Linked DNA regions of Homo sapiens. The protein of the gene in region 1 purifies or fractionates together with the protein of each later gene. This does not show direct contact. Each region holds a gene or a part of one and is shown on either strand. Other genes may lie near its edges. The genes, in order: TECTA, ZBTB43 and PGAP1.

What was found.
Region 2: the proteins of TECTA (region 1) and ZBTB43 purify together in Homo sapiens (affinity purification with mass spectrometry; one large-scale study listed by BioGRID and IntAct). This does not show direct contact.
Region 3: the proteins of TECTA (region 1) and PGAP1 purify together in Homo sapiens (affinity purification with mass spectrometry; one large-scale study listed by BioGRID and IntAct). This does not show direct contact.

Annotation. Positions count from the first base shown.
Region 1 is NC_000011.10:121,128,561-121,132,297, reverse strand, and holds part of TECTA (alpha-tectorin precursor), read right to left. Parts: intron 2,661-3,737; coding exon 2,087-2,660; intron 1-2,086. Other genes in the region: TBCEL-TECTA protein, read right to left, coding at 2,087-2,660. UniProt on the Homo sapiens protein: One of the major non-collagenous components of the tectorial membrane. The tectorial membrane is an extracellular matrix of the inner ear that covers the neuroepithelium of the cochlea and contacts the stereocilia bundles of specialized sensory hair cells.
Region 2 is NC_000009.12:126,836,040-126,838,710, reverse strand, and holds the end of ZBTB43 (zinc finger and BTB domain-containing protein 43), read right to left. Parts: 3' UTR 501-2,671; downstream 1-500. UniProt on the Homo sapiens protein: May be involved in transcriptional regulation.
Region 3 is NC_000002.12:196,916,588-196,920,324, forward strand, and holds part of PGAP1 (GPI inositol-deacylase), read right to left. Parts: intron 3,564-3,737; coding exon 3,410-3,563; intron 7-3,409; coding exon 1-6.

The DNA.
Region 1 (3,737 bases):
TGAGCATAAAACAAATTATGATAACAGATACAATCGGTTAAGTAGGAATCCATGAGTCATCTAAACAAATAAAAAGAAACAAATGGGTGAAAAGGACATCTCTTTACAGTAGAATGCCAACTAATGAATGCAGGAGCCATTGAATTAGAAAAAAATTGCCATTTCACAAACAGTAATAAATGATTCAGACAAAAATCATCACTGGATACTAAATCTAGTGTATGCAAGTTCAAGGAATAGAATAGCTACCTAAATTTAAAGTATTTCCCTGAAAAATATGTATTAATTATATGATTAAAAAACAGTAACTTTCAATGGAGAAATCTGACAGACACTACCTTAAGCAAGCGATCGAATCTATCATGCTCAGTGTAACGGGACAAACCAACATCAGAGGCCTCCAGATATGACACATTGAGAAGACGCATCATTGCTTTTGTGGTATTCCTGCCAAAAATGCATAATTTCAATGGAACCAGGAAGAAATATAAGCCAACTCAAACTGAGAAACAGTCTGCAAAATAACTGGCCTGTACTCTTCAAGAACGCTAAGACAATGAAAGTCAAAGACTGAGGACCTACTCCAGATTAAAGGCGTCTACAGAGACATCATAATAAGATGCAACATGTGATCCTGGATTGGATTCCAGGGTTTGTTTTTTGTTTTGGCTGTAAAAGACATTATTGGAACCACTAACAAAATATGAACATGGTCTTCAGATTACATAATAGTATTGTATCAATGGCAATATCCTGATTTTAATGATTATGTTATGGTCATATAAATGTGCTTATTCTTAGGAAACACACTGAAATATTTAGGTACAAACAGGCATAATGACAGCAACTTACTCTCAAGTGGTTTAGAAAAAGAGTGAGTATATTTTCAGAGACAAAATTAGAAAGAAAATGTGTTACAATGTTAACGATTCGGGAATCTGAGAGAATGGTAGACTGTCTTATTCCTGCAACTTTTCTGTAAGTCTAAAATTATTTCAAATTAAAAAATACTTTTGCCAATTAAAAACGGAGGACAGATAAATAGCCGTCAGGGATGAATCCTTTTTTTTTTTTTTTTTTTTTTGAGATGGAGTCTTGCTCTGTCGCCCAGGCTGGAGTGCAGTGGCGTGATCTGGGCTCACTGCAAGCTCCGCAGCCCAGGTACAAGCGATTCTCCTGCCTCAGCCTTCCAAATAGTTGGGACCACAGGCCCCCGCCACCACGCCCGGCTAATTTTTTGTATTTTTAGTAGAGACAGGGTTTCCCCATGTTAGCCAGGATGGTCTCGATCTCCTGACCTCGTGATCCACCTGCCTTTGCCTCCCAAAGTGCTGGGATTCCAGGCGTGAGCCACCATGCCCGGCCGGGGATGGAATCTTAATGGTGGCCTTGGCTTTGGTGTGGGGCCCACCTTTGTGGTGGGAGAGGGTTGTGTGCTGAAGGCCAGATGAGGCAGTTCTTGCTCCACGAGTGAGTCCTGCTTTCTGCCATGTTACTTCTCCCTGTGGCTTCCCTGATAATCAAGGGTGTTACGTATCAGGTCTTCCCAGAAAGTTTTCTAATTACTACTAGTACTTGCCACTGCATTGCTGAGAGGGGTCAGATACTTTCGGGACAAAATTAAAAGCCAGCAACACAGGACTCTCTTAATACCCATTGTCAGGTTTGCCCTGGGGAGCATGCTAATCTCCATGCCCCAAAGGTGCCCTGGCCGATCACTTCCTATCAAAATCAATGGGGCTCTTCTTTGCCAAGGGAGAAGGCACCTACAGAGCCATCACAAAGATTTCTAGTCCTTTGACATGGTGCCTCTACCCTCTGCTAGATAAAACCACATGCAAATAGGATGGTTAATTGTTCTGCAGTGAGGAGGTACTGTGCAGTTAGGAAAAAAAGTAAAGATGAGAGGCTCTCCGGTTTGGGGTGATGAGTCTTTGGGAGGACACATCAGACTAGGGTAGGTATACACAGTAATTAACATCACCCTTGAGCTCAGTCCCACCTGGAAGGGAAGTCCTGAGTAAGGCCCAGCATGGCACCTATTTCCCAGCTAGAAAGCCTCTCCCAGAATCCAACCCCAACTTACGGCAGAAGTCATAGGTCCGCCAGGGCCCCACCTCCACGTCCGCATTCTTGCAGGCGCTTGCATACCGGGCCACAGAGTCACAGAGCTCTGACTCATTGCCCCCACTCTGGCACAGGCGGAAAAGGCAGGTGCGGTAATAGGCAGTGACGTTCACCACCCCATGGCACTCCAGGAAGGAGCTGTTGGAGGGGTCGTTGATGATGCCGCACCTGGAGCGGCTTCGATAAAACTTGAGCAGCTCCGAGTCATTGTTGCAGGCCTTCAGCAGGTCCCCACACTCTCCATTGCAGATCTCCTCGAAAGTTGTCCAGCTTTCCAGGAACACTGCCAGGTTGTCCGTGCACTTGCCGTTGGGGAGACAGAACTCGTCACTGGCGTTGGCATTGTAGAAGCCGCACAAGCCCCCTGTGCAATTGAAGTATGTGGTGGACAGCCGGATGTACAATAGACCTATGTCTGAGTACTGGACAGTCACCACGCCCTTGGACTCCACTGTCGTACTGTTTTTGTTTCGATAAATTTCCAGCTTCCCCGAAGGATGGAAAAAAGGCAATTCCACTTCCTGACCATTCAACTGAAAAATCAAGTCATTCTTATCAATTCCAGAGACACACAGAGCACTTTCCATTTCCTAGGCTGTGGGATAAAGACACGGTCTGCCCTATTGCTAGCCTTTTGAGAGAGGTCAAGAAGCTGATGGAACCCACAAAGATACCAACCGATTTGTCATGGGCTTCTTTATTTATTTCTTTTTGGATTCCCCTGATTAGACCCATTTGCTGTTTATTTGTGTGTTCTGGACCCAAAGCTAGCCCAAAACAAACGAAACTAAAGTGTGAGCAAAAATCGTCTTAGATACGTGGCTCCCTCCTGCCGCCTGGCATCTCTGTTTTGGTACCTTTCAAAATAGCTCCCCTCCTTCCCTGCCTTTCTGGCTGCTTTTCTCTTCCAGTCTTACTTTTTCTGTGTCCCAGCTCCTCGAGGGCACATAGCATATCTCTAATGATCTAGCTGTCCATTCTTCTATCTACTTCCTACTAGTCTATTAATAAATAAATCTCTGCCAATGTGGCAATGAGAATAAAAACACATCCCTTCCAGTTTGTGGATGCGTATTTTATTATCTCCTTGGGCAGTACTGTGTTGGCTTTTGTTTTCCAAACTAGACTTCAGGTGACATAAAATGCATGTTGCATCCCCGTTCTGCAACAATTAGCTGTGGGACCTTCACTTACCCTTTTAGTAAGTGTCTTCATGTGAAATGAGGAGTTGCACTAGATAATTCTCAATATTCCTTCTAGAGCTAAGGATCTATAAGTCTGGGTGCCTAATGATGGGTTTTTCAGAGCAAGTCAGAGGGGTGGGAGTCACCCCTTACATCACCCCACATAGACTGGCATGTATAGGTAGGGGAGTTAGTAGGGTGCAAGGGTTAAGAGCGCAGATTCTGGAGCCAGCCAGGCAGGTGTGAATCTCCCTTCACGGTTAGGTGTCCCTGTGGAAGTTACTTAGCCTCTCTGCTCCTCAGCTTTCTCATCTGTAAAATGAGGATCATAAGATGAAGTGTGATACTGCTTATAAGGGGCTTAGAATAGTGCTTGGCACATAGTAAGTGTTCTGTAAGTATTTGCTATTCCGGAGAGCTAGTCCT
Region 2 (2,671 bases), on another chromosome or scaffold:
AAGCAGGGAGTCAGGACTGAGACTGGCTTGAGGGGACAAGGGGAAGGTGTGGCTACTAAACCCCAGAAGTTGCCTGACAGGACCTGTGGGCCTTGGCAGAGGAGCCCAGCCACCGCCAACCCACAGCTGGCGGGAAGGAGCCAGGGGAATGAATTCCCTGACTTCTCTGTTCTCTGTTCTGCCAGGCTCCACCCAGAGTGTCTCTGGATCCTGACCGGAAGCCAGGACAGGTCCACCGTGGCCAGCTTCCTGGAGAGAAGTGCATAGCAGGAAGGGGGCCCAGGGGGCACAGAGAGCCTCTAGCACACCCCAAGTACCCGAAGGGGCCAGTGGGGGTCTAAAATATTACTATAAATGCCTGCCTGGCAGTCACTCACTGCCCATTGGATCAGATTATTTGGCATTTACTTACCAAAACGCCACCATATAACTGTATTCTCAGGTGGCAAAACCCAGAGTCAAACAAGATGTGGTCATCTACTCATAGTGAAAAACAAAACTTTTACAAAGTTGACAGATAACATTTATTAAAACATGTCATACAAAAGGGCATGATCTCTTCTATAAGAAGAAAATATTAAACATTAACATTCAATTAAGTAAAACCATGCTGTACACTGAAGACAGCAATATATAAAGACAAAACTATTCAACTTTTGCAACATAGGCATAACATTTCACAAAATATCAATAAGATATGCACCTAATGATAATCTGTTTATCATCAAATGGTTTTGTGGCCTAAGAGTCACCTGACTTGCATAAATAAAGTACTTTTCTGGACGAAACATTGGGAACCTCACAAAAGGAAAGAAGGCAGCAGCAACTAACATGACACAGGCTTCAAGCAAAAATTAAAAAAAAAAAAAAAAGTCACATTTGCAAAATGTGTTCCAGCATCTCCCCATAGGGCACTATCAGTAGAGATTTGAAATAAGAAACTTGTACCTTTAAATATGTAAGTAGCAAAGAAAAAAACCCCAAACAAACCCTGGTTTCACTGAACAAAAGTTAGTCACCCACTAAAGCAACCTAAATCACAAAACTGGTGGCACAGGAGGGATTGGGGATAACACAGTGCTGGTTTCCAGCACCCCTAAATTATCAGAGACCTTCCAAAAGCAAAAACCTGGACTCGTTGTGATGGCGCCCTCTCCACGCCCACCCAGGAGGCCGCAGCACATCCCCTTCCCCAGGGAAAGCACAGCTTTGCAGCTTCTGCTCCGTCTCAAATTCACTCCACAGCAGCTTGGGGGTGTGTGAGCCTCTCAAGGAGGGAGCCCTGGAGGCTAAGCAGCTTTCCCCGGTGGTTAGAAGCCAGCCTTAGGGGCAGGTTAGTTCAGCAAATGCCCACTAGAATGGAGGGGATCCCTTTGGGCAAGCTTTTAAAGTAGTGGCCAAAAGGGACCAGAGGAAGATGAGACCTAGAAATCGGAATCAACAGGCTGGGGGCCTGGAGCGCCTGCAGGCAACCTACAGCCCTGCAGGGTAAGTTACCGCAGTCCTTCCTTAGTTAACGGTGACATGCACTTCACCACGTGGATTACTGTAACGTGTGTATCTAAAGGTAAAAGCATGGCATAAGTATGAATTTTTTTTTTTTTTTTGAGACAGAGTCTCGATCTGTCGCGCAGGCTGGAGTGTGGTGGTGCAATCGCGGCTCACTGCAACCTCCGCCTCCCAGGTTCAAGTGATTCTCCTGCCTCCGCCTCCCGAGTAGCTGGGATTACAGGTGTGCGCCACCACGCCTGGCTAATTTTTGTATTTTTAGTAGAGATGGGGTTTCACTATGTTGGTCAGGCTGGTCACAAACTCCTGACCTCAGGTGATCCACCCATCTCGGCCTCCCAAAGTGCTGGGATTACAGGCGTGAGCCACCATGCCTGGCCCCAAGTATGAATATTAAATACCACTGGTGGTGCCTTGAAGCCCTTTCCCATGGGGATTGAAGAAAAACCACAGTTAAGACTCAAAGTAGGGGACAAATAGCTTGGTTGTAGGCCATTGACGTGATCCCTGAAAGATTGTTTGAACAATGTTACCCACAACCATCCAAACTTATTAGGAAGGATAAAGATTTTCTAAAGCTATATTGAGGTGAAGAGAAGAGACTATTCCTCCAACTCAACGTGGGGATGAAAAAAAGGTAAAAACCAGAGTTTACAAAAATTCACTTTTAATATTCAAATGAAAGCAACCCCCTTCTCCTGCCTCTCTGAACATGGCCAGCATTTCAGACACCCTACCACCTCCCAGGCTCTGGCTGCCTGATAAAAAAATCCCAATTTTTGCCAAAACCTCAAATACCACAAAACACTAAAAGAACAGATGTGAGCAACTTATTTAAGTTCTACATTTAGTAGCTGATGGACACATAAGGCTTTCAAGAAGACACTCTTCTCTTCACAACATATTAAATAAGTCCTAGCACAACTGACTGCTTCCAAAACTACCACCCAAGCGTGCCACCACTCTTGGCTGAACAGAAACTCTTCCTCATGACAAGGGCACTATGCTGATTTCAGCAGAACTGAAGGACCACGACTCTCCCAGAATATCTGTATTTTTACCTCTCAGACTTCTCCTGCAATGTCCTAATGATCATGTAAATAGTCTTCAATGAGAAACAGGACATCAAACCTTCCAAACAGGCAGAAAATGCTCTGCTAAT
Region 3 (3,737 bases), on another chromosome or scaffold:
AACGAACTGCAGAGGAAAAGAGTGAAGTGCACATTAAACAATATTTACAGGTTTCATCCATTCTTTCTTCAGAATTTCTTAGTAAATAACCTTATCCTGCATCACGAATATAAACCACCTATTTCAGGATGAAATTCATTAATAGCACCAATTTAGAACAAACTAATCTAGCAACTGTATGCCTTGAATGCAGTAAGTGTGTCATAAATATTTTTAAAATTAAATAAACAAAAAGCAAACAGATCACTCACTCTCTACCTTCTTTTCCTTTGGTAGGAGCAACAATAGCTAAAAGGGCAGGATTCTTTGAAGAATAAGACATATAAATTTTGCCACACTTATTGAGGTTTTTAAGAATGACAAGGTTCCTACAAGAAATATCCATTCATCACTTGGTTTAGATACTCACGCTTGATTTGTCTTTTTCTCCTACACAGGACATCCAATCCATCAGTAAGCGCTTTCATAATGTACCTTCCAAATCTATCCCCAGTTGAAATTTCTCACCATTCCCACCACTATTGTCCTAATCCAAACACTATTATCTCTTATCTGAACTACTCTAACAGGTTCTTTACTGGTCTCTCTGCTTCCACTCTTTTTGTTCTTGTTGTTGTTTTGCAAATCTTTTTAAAAAATATATTATAAATTGCTTATATTAGGTGGCACAAAAATTGTAGCATATGGTTTAGCAAACAAAATACCTGTTTGCCATTTCATTTTGTAAAAACATATACTATAGATACATTATAATCCACATATTATACAACTCACTATATAAAACTGTAAAATTCGATGGTTTTTAGTATATTCACCATCTCTGGTATATATTTTACAACCATCTCTGAAATCTAACATAAGATATTTTTTAATCGTTTCAAAAACAAAACTCTGTGCCTACTGGCAGTCACTCCCCATTTCTTCACTCCTCCCAAATCCTAGGCCTAGCAACCACTGATCTACTTTCTGTCTCTACGGGTTTGCCTATTTTGGATATCTCATATAATACGTGGCCTTTTGGAACTGGCTTCTTTCACATAGCATGTTTTCAAGGTTCACCCATGTTGTGACATGTATCAGTACTTCATTCCTCTTTTTTATTGAATAATATTCCATTATATGAATATGTCATATTTGATTCATCTATTTATCAGCTGATGGTCATTTAAATTATTTCCACCTTTTGGTTATTATATGCTGCTATGAACATTTATATACAAGTTTTTGTGTGGGTATATGTTTATTTTTCTTGGGTAGATACCTAGGAGTGGAATTTTTGGGCCACATGAGAGCTCTATGTTCAATATTCTGAGGAACTCCCAAACAGTTTTCCAAAGTGGCTGCACATTTTACATTTCCACCAACAATGTATGAGGGTTCCAATTTCTCCACATCTTCACCAACACTTGTTGTTATCCATCTTTCTTATTATAACTATCCTAGGAGGTATGAAGTGCTATCTCATTTTTTATTTATAGTTCTCTGATGACTTATGATGTTTTAGCATCTTTCCTGCTTCCATTCTTGCCCTTCAAAGGAAATTCTCTTCATAGTGAAGCCAGAGCAACTTTTTTTAAAAGTAAATCACACCTACCAGGTTGCTTAAAAATTTAATGTCTGACAATTCTGGTGTTGTAAAAGGATGTGGAGCAAAGGAAGGTAAAATATACTGCTTTTAGGAATATAAATTAGCACAATCAGTAAAGATTAAAAAGATACACATAACCTGTAACATGGAATTACACTCTTGGGTATCTAGCTTACAGAAGCACAGGTTTATGTGCTCCAGGAAACATATGGAATAATATTCATTATTTGTAATTGCCAATAAATGTAAACATTTATTCTGTCCAAAGACAGAATGGACAAACCATGGTATAGTCATACTACAGAATAATACAGAGTAAGGAAAATGAATGAATCACAGCTCACACAACAACTTGGATGAATGTTAAAGATAATGCTGAGTGAAAGAAGCCAGACACAAAATAATACATACTGAATGACTATATTCATATTACAAAATTTAAAAACAGCCTCATATACATAGATTGCATTAAAACTACAAAGAAAGTTAAGGAAATTACTCTCTTAACATTAGGACTGTGATTCTGTCAAGAAAGAAGGGAACAAAGTTTTAATCATGAAGGGGCACAGAAGGGGTTTCCAGGTTACTGGTAATCTACTTCTTGACTAGGGTTTTGGTTTCACGGGTGTTCACTTTATAATAATTTGTAACCAAATATCTATGTTCTATGTGTTTCTCTGTATGTAATATTTCAAATACAAAGATTACTTTTAAAAATCAGGTTATATTTTTCTTACCCAAAGCTCTCCAACAGTTTCTCATTCAAAGTCTTTTCCACAGCTTATATGATATGGCCCGTGGTTACTTTTCCATTCTTATCTCTTTTTACTTTCTCTAGTCACGATAGCCTCCAATGCACAAAACACGTTCCTGCCTCAGGACCTTCCCTCAGTCAAGCATCTCCTCAAATGTCATCTCCTCACAATGGCCTTTCCTGACCACCTCATCTAAACTAGCCACTTCCTGACCCTTTTATCTTCTACCTCCTGAGTCTGTTTTTGTTTCTAGCTTTTAACATTACTGACATATTTGTTTGATTGCTGTCTTCCTGATAAGCATATAAATTTGATGAGAGAGGGACTTTGTCTTGATATGCTCTGGATCCCTAATACCTGGAATACAGCCTGGCTCATGGTAGATACCTGTAGACACGTGCTAGATGAATAAACACGTAAATAATTGCACATGTTGAAACAATTCTAGTCTCATTACATAACAATTCTAGTCCATCAAATAACAAGAAAGCAGGTTTTAGTTTAAAACGAAATTAATTCCAGGTTATTTGGCTGTTACGCCAGAAATAACTGCTGTATCTCCAAGCCAGCATCAATTTGGAATCTGTACACGTAACTTCCCTATCTCACCTTTCTATGTTCCCCCCAGTACTTCCAAATCTCTCTAACTTAAATAACTCCAAAAGAAGAAAACGAATCTCTCTTGTTCTGCATAACATTAGTCACTGATTTACTTCCCTAATCAATGCTTAAGGTTCTGTTCTCTTTACCCTCCATTTCCAACATAAATGTGTTTCCTCTGCTGATTCCCCAAGGGGTTCCCCTTTATCATCTACTTATCCCATCCTACTCTATCTTATTCTTTGTACCCCTCTCTTTGCAAAGTGGTCTTCAACTTTTCTAAGTATTTCTCACATTATTCTCTCTCAGAGAAAATATTATATTTTGGTCTCTCTGTAAGCCCAGCACAGCACTTCACACACAGCATGCATTTCATTTACTTTATTTGATTCACCGAGTATGGATATGATTCAAATTCTTGAGTTGAATTTTATAGCTTTCAAAATTTACTTCCAGTAAGACTTACCTTGCTTATAACTTCCAGCATTACCAGGAAGAAAGAGAACTGGAATACCCGTCAAAGGGAGAATTTTGTGTTCTTCAGCATAGGATCCCTCTCCATAAAGATACAACTCATATGCGGGATAGCGTTTTGCCAGTTTCTTTGGAAGTTCTATTTTCTACATTTAAAAAAAAGTAGTTTCACTTTAATCAGTTTTATTAATACAATTCAGCCTCACCATATGCAATTCTGAATTACGCAAATTTGAAATAGTGCAATATAAAAATATTACTGATATTAAAACCACACTTCATACACAAAACAAGTTCTACTTGTAGTTTATTCATATAGA